Linked DNA regions of Homo sapiens: regions 1 and 2 are each linked to region 3. Evidence: fine-mapped expression QTL. A gene starts in region 3. Each other region holds a variant in brackets. All regions are shown on one strand. Distances are from middle to middle.

Region 1 (2,758 bases), 170 kb after region 3:
ATGAAAGCTTCAAGATTACTTTGCATTTCTGCTGTGCGAGAACGTTAACAGTCATAGACAAGAAGTATAAGTAACTGTCTCAGCACTGCTGAAACCAACTGCCAGATATCAAGACCCTGGGATTTTGACCTTTTTAAAATAAGAAGAAGAAAAACAAAAAATTGCCAAACAAATTGTGTCATGAGATCTGTCTTTGTCAAGACAGTATTTCTGGCTTTTGTCCGTCTAGAGCTACCTACAACAGCTTGTACAAGTATATTTTAAGTCATAGTTTTCATAAAAAGAAAGATGTGTATCTGAACCTCAACATGTTCTAAATAATTGAGTTTTTTTCTGAAACTATAATATGTAAATTCAAATAAAATTATATTGAATACTTTTTATTTTATTTAATTATATATATTTTTTATTATTACTTTTTTGAGATGGAGTCTCGCTCTGTCACCCAGGCTTGAGTTTGGTGGAATGATCTCAGCTCACTGCAACCTCTGCCTCCTGGGTTCAAGCAATTCTCCTGCCTCAGCCCCCTGAGTAGCTGGGATTACAGGCACGTACCACCATGCCCGGCTAGTTTTTGTATTTTTAGTAGAGACAGGGTTTCTCCATGTTGGCCAGGCTGGTCTCGAACTCCTGACCTCAGGCAATCCATCCGCCTCAGCCTCCCAAAGTGCTGGGACTACAGGCGTGAGCCACTGCGCCCGACTGAATACTTTTTATTTTTAGGAAGCAGTTAAAGTTAGTCTATGTCTCAGTGTTTTTTTATAAATGCATTGAGAGACGTCTTGAATAATGTTCACCAAATGCTAATGGTAGTTATTTTTGGGGAAATGGGAATTAAGGTGACAATTAAAAATTTTTTTTTTGCCTGGTGCTGTGGCTTATGCCTGTAATCCTAGCTACTCAGGAGGCAGGAGGATCACTTGAGGCCAGGAGTTTGAGACCAGCCTAGGCAACATAGTGAGACTGCATCTCTAAAAAAAACTTTTTTTTTTTTTTTGGAGACAGAGTTTTGATCTCGTTGCCCAGGCTGGAGTGCAATGGTGCAATCTTGGCTCACTGCATCCTCCACCCGCGAGTTCAAGCGATTCTCCTGCCTTAGCCTCCCGAATAGCTGGGATTACAGGTGCCTGCCACCATGCTTGGCTAATTTTTTGTATTTTTAGTAGAGGCGCAGTTTCACCATGTTGGCCAGGCTGCTCTCAAACTCCTGACCTCAGGTGATCCACCCGTCTCGGCCTCCCAAAGTGTTGGGATTACAGGCGTGAGTCACTGTGCCCAGCCATCTTTAAAAACTTTTCTTTAAAAATTTTATTTAATTTTTAAAGAAAAAAATTAGCCAGGCCTCATGGTGCATGCCTGTAGTCCCGGCTACCTGGGAAGCTGAAGCAGGAGGATCACTTGCGCTCAGGAATTCAAGTCTGTGGTGAGTTATAATTGTACCACTGCACTCCAGCCCGGGTAACAGAGCAAGACCTCTCTCTAAAAAATAAAACTGTTTTGATTGAATTTCATTTTCTAATGAGCATGTATAAGTTTTACGAAAACAATAAAGCTGTAAAAATAAACCATGTACTACTTTTCTATAAATATTTTCTGAAAATCCGGGGG[T/C]GGTGGCTCACTCCTGTAATCCCAGCACTTTGGGAGGCTGAGGCAGGCAGATCACGAGGTCAGGAGTTCGAGACCAGCCTGACCAACAAGGTGAAACCCCATTTCTACTAAAAATACAAAAATTAGCCAGGCCTGGTGGTACATGCGTATAATCCCAGCTACTTGGGAGGCTGAGGCAGGAGAATCGCTTGAACCCGGGAGGCAGAGTGAGCCGAGATCATGCCATTTCACTCCAGTCTGGGCGACGGAGCAAGACTCCGTCTCAAAAAAAAAAAATTTGGCCGGGCACGGTGGCTTATGCCTGTGATCCCAGCACGTTGGGAGGCCGAGATGGGCGGATCACGAGGTCAGGAGATCAAGACCATCCTGGCTAACACGGTGAAACCCCGTCTTTACTAAAAATACAAAAAATATAGCTGAGCATGGTGGCAGGTGCCTATAGCCCCAGCTACTTGGGAGGCTGAGGCAGGAGAATGCCGTGAACCCGGGAGGCGGAGCTTGCAGTGAGCCAAGATCGCGCCACTGCACTCCAGCCTGGGCGACAGAGTGAAACTCTGTCTCAAAAAAAAAAACAAAGGCTGGGCACGGTGGCTCATGCCTGTAATCCCAGCACTTTGGGAGGCCGAGATGGGCGGATCACGCGGTCAGGAGATCAAGACCATCCTGGCTAACATGGTGAAACCCCATCTCTACTAAAAATACAAAAAATTAGCGGGGTGTGGTGGCAGGTGCCTGTAGCCCCAGCTACTCAGGAGGCTGAGGCAGGAGAATGGCGTGAACCCGGGAGGCAGAGCTTGCAGTGAGCCAAGATCACGCCACTGCACTCCAGCCTGGGTGACAGAGCGAGACTCTGTCTCAAAAAAAAAACAAATAAATATTTTCTAAAAACTTTGTATTTCAATAGGATCATTTTATTTTATTCAACTCCACAACTGTTGACAGTTGTATGTGTTTTCCCTTTATGGCTTTGATAGTTGTTATGTTTTGTATTTGGCTAATGTTCTCTGTGCTCCTTCCCTTGTGTCCTGCTTAGCAAAAGATACAGATATTGTGGATGAAGCCATCTATTACTTCAAGGCCAATGTCTTCTTCAAAAACTATGAAATTAAGGTAAATTACGGAGCTTTTAATATTTAACTTAGTTTTCTCA
Region 2 (2,758 bases), 850 kb after region 3:
CTTCCTTCTAACCCTTTTATCCTCCGTATGCCTTCCTTCCTCACCTGTGAAACGGGATGATGACCCCCTGCCCACCTCATTGGCTGGTTAAGTGTGCTACTACGTGAACACGGCAGATGGGGCTTAGCGCCAGGGCGAGCTGCTGCCTCTTGCTTCCTGGCCCCTCCTTGAGTCTACTGTTCACCTGTAAGGCCAGCATGGCTGCTGCTGCCTTTTTAGTGAGCCGCCTGCATGGGGCTGAAGGGTACGCTCTGTGCTACAGGCTGACTGTCCCCACTATAAGTGGACACAACTGGCCCTGCCATGGGGAAGGAGGGCCATGGCGGGCAGACTCCTGCCCCCATCCATAGCCCCTCCCTGGTCCTGAGACATTCCCAAGGGCAGCCCACAGCTTTCCGGGGCTGAGGGGGTATGGAGAGTGGTGGTGGTGGAGTTCCATGAGGCAGATGGAATGGCCCTGGGCATGTAGTTTGCCCAGCTGAGCCTGTTTTCCCACCTGTAGAATGAGGGTCATGATCATGCCAGGTCTCCAAGGTGGCCTCAAGGAATGGAGGCGCCGGGGGCTCAGTAGGGGGTGAGGTACATGATAGGTGCTTGGAGCTCATTACTTTCAGGGGAGCCTGGGAGAGGAGCTTCACCACTCGGCCTCTGCTTCCTCATCTGTAAAATGGGGTGATGCTACTGCTAATACTACTTCCCAAGATGGCTGGGAGGGTTTGACGGGTCATGTGCGGTAGATGGCGTTAACAAAAGCTGGTGTTCTGTGAGCGTGAGTATTAATACCTTCCCCATCTGCCCAGAGAAAGGGCCCTCCCAGAAAAGGGGCAGGGGACTCATGCCACCCTTCAGACAGGCACAGGTGGGACTGGCATCGCAGCTGGGGATAGAGTGCAGACCCTGCTACCTCCCCACTGATCAGAAGGCTGCTGGCCATGTCCCAACCTTCTAAAGCATCGTCCCTGACACCTCGTGGGCTCACAACCAATCCAAGTGAAATGGGATGGAGAGGAACAGGCGGTGGCGGGACATGGGGGTCCAGAGACAGCTTCCCAAAAGGAACTGTATCCTGGTTAAGTCCTGGGCCACTGGTAGAAGAGGTGAAAAGGGAGGGAGAAACAGATTTCAGGCAGAGTAAACAGCCCAGGCAAAGGCCCTGAGGCAGAGAAGTAGTCAGGGTGGGAACTGCAAATGACTCGGGAGGAGAGAGGCACCGGGGCAGGCTTGCAGAGAGAAGCCCAAGAGAGGTGGCCGGCCGGGAGGGCCTCTTCGCTGCAGGAAAGCGGCTCTCACTGCACGGGGCACTCTGGCTGTGTGTAGAGACATGATTGGCTGTCACAGCTAGGGGTAGAGGTGCTACTGGCATC[G/C]GGTGGGTCATGGCCTGGGATGCCACTAAACATCCTACAATGCACAGGACAGCTCTGCCACAGAAAAGGGTCCAGTCCCAACTGTCAGCAGGGCCAAAGGGGGAGAGGCCCCGACGTGGGGCACTGGGCAGCCATGGGAGGTTTTAAGCAGGGTAAGGCATGGGCAGGCCTATGAGCCTAGGCAAATGAGCTTCAGTGGGCTTATTTGCCTCTGCCCTGGGTGAAGGGTGTGGTCTGACCTGGCCAGGGCAGCAGGGAGTGAAGAAGTAGGTGGCTCTCCGTTCATCTGGCCTCACTGGGGCTGGGCAAGTGGACCCAGCCATGGACCCCCATCCCGACTCTGCCCGGGGCAGCCTCCTCCTAAGTGGCCTAAAATAAACTCGGTGTGGAGAATGGAAATGTCACTTTGGCCAACGGGGGAATCTTTCTCCGAGATTGGATTTAAACTACATTATACAAGCAATTTCATGGGCACTTAGCGCCACTCGGAGAGTCCCGCAAAAAAGGGACCAGCTCTTCATTTACCAGCCATAAATCAGCAGTTGCTATAATGAGCACAAAAATGTCACTTTTATGCAATTTTACAGATGAACAAAACTGGTGAAATTAACTGTGGTAACCTACTGGAGTCAGCAAAAGCAGCTGCCGGGGAAAAAAAAATTATATCTGTATGTATTTTTGTTCCTCTTAAACTCTCTTCCCAAGCAAGTTTCTGCCATTGTGGTGTGAAAACTCATTTGTCCTCACCATTATACTTTCATTTGGAGTTTATCTTGAGTATCCAATGAGCCACCAACTGTGAAAATGATTAAATCTACAAAATCTATCTAATGGACGGAATAAATTAGGTGTTTAAAACCTTAAGAAGAAGAAGAAAAAAAAGGAGTGCCTGTTCCTAGTCCCCATTCACTGAAAGAAGGGGCATTTTGCCCCCATGTGGTCAACAGGGCTCATTGAGGGTGACCTGGTCCCTCTGCCATTCCACAGAAAGTGCCATAATACAGAAGCTCATTTTGGTGAGCGTCTAGTATGTGCTAGGCTCCAGGGCCATGGCTTTTTTTTTTTTTTTGAAGACAGGGTCTTACTCAGGGTAGAATGCAGTGGCACAGTCGTAGCTCACTGCAGCCTCAACCTCCCAGGCTCAAGTGATCCTCCTGCCTCAGTCTCCCAAGTAGCTGGAACTACAAGGGTGTGCCACTACACCTGGCTAATTTTTGTATTTTTTGTAAAGATGGGGTCTCACTATGTTGCCCAGGCTGGTCTCGAACTCGTGGGCTCAAGTGACCCTCCCACCTTGGTGTCTCAAAGTGCTGGGATTACAGGTCAGCACTTTGAGATGCCACGGCACCCAGCCTCCATGGCTTTTCTTGATGACTCTCGTTTGGAGGCCCCAA
Region 3 (2,758 bases):
CTCAATCTTAGCGGGTCACAGTCATTCAGTGAAGTCATCCATGTCAATTTTTTTTTTTGAGACAGTCTTGCTCTGTCGCCCAGTCTGGAGTGCAGTGGTAATTACTGCAACCTCTGCCTCCTGGGTTCAAGCGAGTCTCCTGCCTCAGCCTCCCGAGTAGCTAGGATTACACCATGCCCGGCTATTTTTTCTATTTTTAGTAGAGACTGGGTTTCGCCATTTTGACCAGACTGATCTTGAACTCCTACCTCAAGCAATCCACCCGAGTTGACCTCCCAAAGTGCTGGGATTACAGGCGTGAGCCACGGCGCCAGCCAAACGTCAAATTAGATTATAAAATATTTCCACTAAATGTGTAATTCTAGAATTAATCATTTTCTGAAAAAAATGTTAATTATCCCTACATATGACTCCTAAGAAGTGAGCATAACCCCTCCCTCAATAGCTTTCCACCTCCAATTCAACACAGGAGGAATCCTGGGTTTTTAGAATTCAGGTCAACAGAGAAGGGTCTTAACATAGTCACATTTAGTAAGATAGACCTTTGGCCTCTCTTTAAGTGAAAGTTCAGTGCAGCCAAGGCACTAATTTCCACCATTGTCTCGACTTAATTTCGTCTTGGGCTGCAAGAATTCATTATTGCTCTTTGCATCACTGTTGTCTGGGACCACTTCAAGTATTTTCAAAGGTTTGATACCGTTCCACTTAAACTCTGAGACCCGGTTTTCTCATTTACCTGACAGTGATAGTAACAGCTACTTCTCAGGGTTATTGTTTAGAGAATGGACGTTTATGGAACACTCAGCAGTGTCTGCACACAGTAAGTGCTCAATAAGAGTTAGCTATCATTATTACGTCCTCACCGGGGCTGTCCCCTTGAGGTTGGATCACTGTGGACTCCAGGAGCTGGCACATGGTACCCACCGTCCGTGACTGGGGTAGGCCTGGGGCCGGAGGAGGGCCCTGGAGCCCTGGGAGTCCCGGGGGGCCTGGTCGACGGGAAAGTTCCGAAGGTGGCCAGGGCTGCCTCGGTGGAGTTGAGGCCCTCTGTCGTCACCGCCGGGGTGGCATCGGTCTGGGCGCTCACGGAGGCCCAGCAGCCCAGGAGCACCACCAGGAGCGGCGGGAGACCTCGCGGCCTCATCTCCCAGGGAGTCCCAGCGAGGCCCGCGACATGGACAGCGCGTTGCCCGGCAACCGCGACAGCCAGGCGCGGGGCATCACGGGAAGGGGCTTGCGAAGCCGCGAGAAGCTGCCGGAGACTGACTGGGGCGAAGCCTGGATGAGGCAGGGGGCGGATCCCGGATGAGGCCGGAGGGCGGCGCCTGGGTGAGGCAGCGATGGCAGGCACAGGGGCGAGCACTAGTGAGCGGGTGTGAAGCTGGCGTAAACGAGGGGCGTGTAAATCCCGGCTGTGGTTTCCAACCGGTCCGCGGCGCTTGCTTAAAAAATGCAGATTTTCTGTAGTTCCAGCTACTCGGGAGGCTGAGGCAGAAGAATCGCTTGAACCCGGGAGGTGAAGGCTACAGAGAGCCGTGAGCGTGCCACTGCACTCCAGCCTGGGCGACAGTGTGACACTCTGTCTCAACCAAAAAAAAAAAAAAAAAAAAAAAAGACGGATTTCCAGGTACCACCTCAGGAGATCCTGAGTCAGTTAGTCTAGGGCAGGACCCAGGAATCAGTTTTTGGGGGATTTTTTTTGAGACAGGGTCTCACTCTGTCGCCCAGGCTGGAGTGCAGTAGCGCGATCTCGGCTCACTGCAGCCTCGACCTCTGGGACTCAAGCAATCCTCCCACTTCAGCCTCCTGAGTAGCTGGGAACTCAGGCGCGCGCCACCATACCCAGCTAATTTTTGTATTTTTTTTTTTTTTTTTTTTTTTTTGTAAAGACGAGGTCTCCCTCCGTCGCCCGGACTGGTATCGAACTCCTGGTTCAAGTGATCCACCTGCTCCAGCCTCCTGAGTCCTGAGTAGTTGGGATTACAGGCGTGAGCCACCACTCCCAGCCAGGAATAAATATTTTTAACAAATGTCCGGACGCAAGCAGATGAGTTGGACGGAAATTTAGGAAGCGCCGTCCCAACGCCACTAACGTGGGTGTTTGGAAGGAGCACAGGGATCTGTGAGATCACTGTCTCTGAATTTTCTCTATCCCAGACTCTGTCAACACTGGCTTCACCTTTTTATTTTAGCTGCATCTCACAAGGTTGCCAGATAACTTCTGTCTGCTGTATTGTGATAAAGGGGACAAATGAACACTTAATACCTTTTATTATTTTTTGTAGAGAGGGGGTCTCACTATGTTGATCAGGCTAGTCACAAACTCCTGGCCTCAAGTGATCCTCCCGCCTCAGCCTCCCAAAGAGCTAGGATTACAGGCATGAGCCACCACGCCAGGCCTAAGAACCTATTTAAAGACAAAAATCTTTTACAAAAATTAAGTAAAATAATTTAGACATCTTAAAGGGGAAAACAAAGCAAATCCACTGTAATGCTACAAAACGACCTGGAGACCCTACGATTTAGGAAACCCTCTCCATTCTGAATGGGCTTATTTAGGAGGTACCCAAGCCCAAGAATGTTGGCTGCACCTTTGACACTTAATCTCCATACAGTTCAGAAGTAGATGTCGAAGTACTTAGACGTGGCCAGGCACAGTGGCTCACACCTGTACTCCCAGCCCTTTGGGAGGATCGCTTGAGTCCAGGAGTTGAGACCAGCCTGGGCAACATGGTGAAACCACATCTCTACAAAAAAT

The links. PIP is the estimated chance that this variant, and not a neighbour inherited with it, causes the effect.
Region 1: its variant is the best candidate, but not a certain one, in a credible set for the expression of TCTN1 in whole blood (TOPMed, PIP 0.68).
Region 2: its variant is the best candidate, but not a certain one, in a credible set for the expression of TCTN1 in tibial artery (GTEx, PIP 0.79).

Annotation. Positions count from the first base shown.
Region 1 is chr12:110,440,272-110,443,029 of GRCh38, reverse strand. ARPC3 (actin related protein 2/3 complex subunit 3) reads left to right here. Exons shown (of 7, transcript NM_001278556.2): 3 at 2,642-2,718. Among named protein-coding and RNA genes, the nearest start is that of ARPC3, 8.7 kb to the left of the region's middle. The variant T/C (reference allele first, on the strand shown) is at 1,609.
Region 2 is chr12:109,763,898-109,766,655 of GRCh38, reverse strand. All of the region lies in intron 2 of FAM222A (family with sequence similarity 222 member A), which reads right to left. The region is part of intron 1 of FAM222A-AS1 (FAM222A antisense RNA 1); the gene reads left to right. Among named protein-coding and RNA genes, the nearest start is that of FAM222A-AS1, 8.2 kb to the left of the region's middle. The variant G/C (reference allele first, on the strand shown) is at 1,365.
Region 3 is chr12:110,612,569-110,615,326 of GRCh38, reverse strand. TCTN1 (tectonic family member 1) reads right to left here and starts at 1,198. Exons shown (of 15, transcript NM_001082538.3): 1 at 925-1,198. The coding sequence starts at 1,144. RefSeq lists an enhancer at 872-921.